Regions from separate parts of the Homo sapiens genome. Here region 2 is linked to region 1. The links come from fine-mapping of genetic effects on gene expression. A gene starts in region 1. The other region holds a variant in brackets. All regions are shown on one strand. Distances are from middle to middle.

Evidence for each region. PIP is the estimated chance that this variant, and not a neighbour inherited with it, causes the effect. A credible set is the group of variants that fine-mapping cannot tell apart.
Region 2: its variant is the best candidate, but not a certain one, in a credible set for the expression of PITPNM3 in nasal epithelium (TOPMed, PIP 0.66).

Annotation. Positions count from the first base shown.
Region 1 is chr17:6,555,357-6,558,152 of GRCh38, forward strand. It overlaps PITPNM3 (PITPNM family member 3), which reads right to left and starts at 1,199. Exons shown (of 20, transcript NM_031220.4): 1 at 1,029-1,199. The coding sequence starts at 1,050. RefSeq lists an enhancer at 1-110.
Region 2 is chr17:6,464,860-6,467,655 of GRCh38, forward strand. The region is part of intron 14 of PITPNM3 (PITPNM family member 3); the gene reads right to left. Among named protein-coding and RNA genes, the nearest start is that of PIMREG, 22 kb to the left of the region's middle. The variant G/A (reference allele first, on the strand shown) is at 1,215.

The DNA.
Region 1 (2,796 bases):
GCCCGATGGTATTCACACCCATTCCTTCACTGTCGCGCCCGGTCCTGGGGGACGGCATGGCACCAGCCAACGTCACGGGTTGGGTGTGAGTTCATGGTAGATTCTCACACGCCAGCCTCACAAGAGGCACTGCCGAGACCAGGCTTGCTGCCGCCTACTGTATGGCCGGCCCTGTGGGCACAGCTGTCCTCCACCCGCCTCCCAAGGCACCATCGGGCCCAGAATGTGCCCGATGAGTCACGGGCCTGGGTCTCCCCAGCATGGGCGCAGCAGGGGGGCTGAGTCCGCCTGAGCCCCGGTGCCCAGCTCAGGGTCTGGCACAGAGCAGATGCTAGTGAATGAACGTCGGGCTGGATGAATGAACGAATGACTAATGCCCGCTCCCTCAAACCACAGGCTACACCGTCTGAGCCTGGGGGAGGGCAGAGCCCACGGGACCCCAGAAGAGGCCTCCGCAGCTGAGGCTTTGCGTCCCAGGGTCGATGGGGGAGGGGGCGGGGCGGCCAGCAGCCGGCGCGGCACGGGGCTCCCCTCCTTCCCGAGAAGGAATCTGGGTCTCTGGACTGAGCTGGTGACGGGGGCTGGGGCGGGGGGTTGTGGCGTCCTGGATGGAGAGAGCTGCAGGAGCAGGGGGCGCGTCCCGGTTTGCGTTGGGGTGTGGGACGAAGCGGCGGCCGCGGGACATCCCCTTCGGTGGCGAAGCCCGGGTCTGCCCGGGGCCTCCGCGGGGTGCAGAGGGCTCCCAACGGCGGGACTGGCCCGGGGCGCCGCAGACCTGGCCCTTTCCGGCGGGGCCGTGGAGAAGGGGACGCGGTGTCCCCCGAGGTGACCGGGGGCGCAGGAAGGACGGGGGGCGCGCGGAGCCCCCTCTCCACGCGCGGGAGGTCCAGCCCCGCTACCGCCCCCTACGCCCTCCCGGGACCTCCGCCCACCTGCGCGAGGGGTTCACCTGGGCCGGCGGCCCCTCCTCTAGACGCGCGAGTCCCTCCCCCGGGCCCCGGCCCTGCCCTCCCCGCGCCCGCCCTCACCTGCACGGCCCGCCTTGGCCATGTCCCGGGCGGCGGGCTCCGGCGGCGCTACGCGCGCTCCTCGCGCTTCCCGGGCCCGGCCCCGACCGCCTCCGGCCCCGAACGGACTCCGAGCGCCGCGCCCGCGCCCCCGCCCCGCTCGCCTCGGCTGCCGCCACCGCAGCCGCCGCCGCCTCGCCGCTCCCTCCCGCTCCCTTAAAGGCGCCGAGCGGCGGCCGCGCCCCCCCCCCACCCCACCCCCCGCGCCGCCGGGGAGGGACTGACGAAGGAAGGCGCCCAACGCCGCCCCCGCGGGCCCGCACCCCCGCCCCGGGCCGTGGCCGCCGCGCTCCAGCCCGCTCCGCTCCGGCCCGCGCGGCCACCGCAGCGCGCGAGGGGCGGCAGCCCAGGGGCTCAGAGACGCGGAGACAGCCCGAGACACTGCGGGCCAGAGACGGGGCCCTGGACTGGGAGAGGGGCGCACAGACTATTAGACAGCGCTGGAGAGAGACGCTCCTAGGGCCAGAACGCCGAGGTGGAGGGAGAGAGAGAGAAATTCAGAGGAGACCAGAGACCCAGAGCCCGGCTCCGGCTCCGGGAGAGACGGACAGAGGGAGCGGAGAGAGGAAGGAGGACAGGGATCCAAGGGAGGCCCCCACGAAGTCAAGAGGAAAGTCGCTCTGGGATCAGAGACAAGAGAGGGACCCCCTCCATCAGCCCCCGCTCCAGGGGTTCTGGATCATTTATGGCGTCTGACCTAACCTCAAAAGAGAAAGGATTCCCGTGATTTTAACCCTCAAGGGATAAGTAAAACACTTGCACATCCACCTGGGGTTCTAGGCTGGAGCAGGCTTTGTGGACCCCAGCGGCCTGGTGGTGAGCAGTACCCGCCTTCCACTTCCTAAATCGGGATGCAGAGATTCTAGTGGACAGGCCTTGTGGTCCGGGGAGATATGGGTTATGACTTCTGTTTAGGGGCAGCAGGGATCCACAGTCCAGCCCCAAAAGAGAGCAGGAGATGGCCAATTGTATTTGGCGGTGCCTGAGAGGTAACAACCCTCCACTGAGAGGGTGCCCTGCCTCCCCCAGGAATTGGTAAGGCTGAAGCCCAGTTACCATCTGTAGAGCCAGGCACCCAACCCACCCTGTCCCACTCCACTTAACAGGGAAAAGGTCAACTGGAGAATTCCATCCATGGTCCAGGCTCCAGGGTCCTGCAAGCTCCTCTATGGAAACAGGGCACACATGGGGTTAGATGGGGGCTCTCAGTCCAGTGCCTTCTCTGGGGCTTTGACTCCATTCACAAGATTCCTGCTAAGCAGTCCTCCAGCTCCTGGTTGGTTACCTCCAAGGACAGGAAGCTCAGTATCTTAAGTGAGAGTTCTTCCTTTTATTAATTTTTTTTTTTTTTTTTTGGCTAGTGCTGGCCTTAAGAATGTTCTTACTCGTTTGAGCTGAAATCTACAACCCGCATGTCCCATCCATGAGTTCTGCTCTGCCTTCCGACACCTCACCCAACAAAACCAGGGCTTCCCAAGGCCTTCTACCCAAACTCCCTAGTATGGATTCACCCAGGGAGAACAACCATCCACGTTTGCCAGAGCTCACCTCCCAGGAAACCCATGAGTCCCAAGAGCTCTGGATCCCAGAGCCAGATGACAGCACCAACTCCAACAGATGTAGAATTTCAGAAGCTCTGGGCTCCTGAATCCAACGCTGTTCACCAGCACCTGCCATTGGTCACCAGCTGGGAGAGCAGGAATGGACCCTGCAGCCTTTCCCCACTATG
Region 2 (2,796 bases), 90 kb before region 1:
GCATATCAGCTTGCTGAATCATGTCTCTCTACTAACTTCTGCTAGAGTTTCAGAGATGTGTTCCCAGGGAACGTGTGAGAAAAACAGACCGTGAGTCCCCCAAACGCTGTCTTCAAGGTGCACAGGGCTTCCTGCCATTGTACGTTTTCTGCTTTCGTGTTTTTTGTTTGATTGATTGTTTGTTTGTTTTGTTTTTTGTTTTTTGTTTTTGAGAAGGAGTTTTGCTCTTGTTGCCCAGGCTGGAGTGCAATGGCGCAATCTCGGCTCACCGCAACCTCCCGGGTTCAAGCAATTCTCCTGCCTCAGCCTCCTGCGTAGCTGGGATTACAGGCATGCGCCTCCACACCTGGCTAATGTCATATTTTTAGTAGAGATGGGGTTTCTCCGTGTTGATCAGGCTGGTCTCGAACTCCCGACCTCAGGTGATCTGCCTACCTCGGACTCCCAAAGTGCTGGGATTATAGGCATGAGCCACCGTGCCTGGCCCGTTCTCTGTTTTGACTCTGCTCGGCCCTGAGGGGACAACTGGCCTCACAGCCTGTGCTTATCTTCCAGATCCCCGGGCTGGAAACTGCCTGGTCACTTTTGGTTCTTTCTTCTACATCACAGCTCACATCCAACAGTATTTACTATCTGTCTTTTTTTTTAAGATAAAATTTCAAATGCACAAGCATAGAGAGAGAGAAGAGTGTAACAAAGCCTCGTGTTCCCAGCACCTGCTCCACCACTTAGCAACAAACTCGTGGCCATCCTGGTTTCGTTCTTCCCTTGCCCAATTCCCCAGCCTCGGCCCCAGCCCCACCGGGATTATCCTGGAGCAATCCTGGACGCTGCGTCATTTTATCTGTGACTGTCTCAACCTCCCTATTTTTCTTCATTTATCAATGAACTGGTTTCAGTTCATTCTGCAGCCTGTGTTGGCCCTGACCAGCCCCCACTCCCAGCCTGGCCTCCAAGACCCCAGTCTCTCCATCTAGTGACCACTCCTTTACCGCACTGGCCACATCTTCATCTCTCGCACAGCCACATCGCCTGGATGCTGCTAACAGCTCCCTAATGGAGCTCCTTCCTCAAAGGCAGTCCCTGCAACAGATCCTCTGTCTCTATAAAGCACAGCTCTACTAACACCCTCCCGGGCTCCCCACTGCCCTCTGCGTAGAGTCCGGAACCTGAGCTTAGCTTTCCAAGGCTTGCCTGAACGACCTCTTCAGTCT[G/A]TCTCCTGCTGCTCCCCATCCACACCTTCTGGTCCTTTCTGCCAGGCTCTGCAGCAGCCTCCAGGCCTTTGCTCACACCGCTGTCCCGCCCCCCACACTGGCTCTAGGTGCCATCCCTGGCCCTGGCCCTCTTCCCCCACATTCCAGCCCATTCGCTATGACTAGACTCAGCGCCATCATCGCCAAGAAACACTCCTCGGACTCCTCAAAGACAGGTTCTCAACCTCCTTTCAATTCCCATGCATTTTAATTCAATCCAACAAATATCTGCAGACACCTCATCTGCATGGGGTCCCTGAGATAAACTAGTCGTGGGCCCTGCCCTGGAGACACTCAGCCAAGTAGGGAACGCAGGCCCCCTTACAGGTGCACTGTCAGGGGAGAGGGAGCAGCTGGTTCATGAATATAAGCACCTGAAAAGATCCGGCATCCCGAGTCATTAGAGAAATGCAATCAAAACCACAATGAAATACCCCGTCACACCCACCGGGATGACTAGAATCAAACAGACAGATAATAACAGGGGTTGCTGAAGATGCGGAGAAATCAGAATCCTCATACATTGCAGTGGGAATGTGAAATGGTACAGTCACTGTGGAAAACAGTCTGGCAGTTCCCTATATGATTAACCATAGAGTTAACATTTGATACAGAAATTGCACTTCTAGGCATCTACCCGAGAGAAATGAAAACACAGGAGAAATGAAAAACACAAAAACTTATACATGGACGTTCATAGCAGCATTATTCATAGTAGCCGAAAGGTGAAAACACCAGCCTGGCCAACATGGCGAAACTCCATCTCTACTAAAAATACAAAAAATAAAATAAAATAAAATAATTAGCCGGGCATGGTGGTGAACACCTGTAATCCCAGCTACTTGGGAGGCTGAGGTAGAAGAATCACTTGAACCAGGGAGGGGAGGTTACAGTGAGTTGAGATTGCACCACTGCACTCCAGCCTGGGCGACAGAACAAGACTCCGTCTCAAAACAAAAAAAAAAAACCAAAAAAAAAAAACAGGTGAAAACAACCCAAAAAATGTCCATCAGGTAGTGAATGGATAAGCAAAACGTAGCATCTCCATACAACGGAATATTATTCAGCCTCAGAAAGGAATTTCTGACACAGCGACCAGTTGGATGAACCTTGAAGACAGTGCGCTAAGTGCAAGAAGCCAGACACAAATGGTCACATATTACATCATTTCATCGAAATGAAATGTCCAGAATAGGCAAATCTGCAGGCACAGAAAGTCGATTACTGATTGCCTGGGGCAAGTGAGGGAGTGTCAGCTAAAGGGTACAGAGCTTCTTTTTGGAGGTTATGAAAAAGCTCTAAAACTGACCATGGTAATGGTTGCACACATCTGTGAATATACTAAAATCCACTGAATTGTACTATCTAAATGGGTAAATTATAGAATATGTGGATTTTATCTCAATAAATATGTTTACCAAAAAAGAGTTGGTTCATGAAGGATTGATCTCCTTCTACCTTTTAGGACTGTTCTTGGGGTCCATGTCTGGTCTTTTCACCAGACTGGAGATGCCTACCATAGCAATGGTTGTGTCTGTACAAC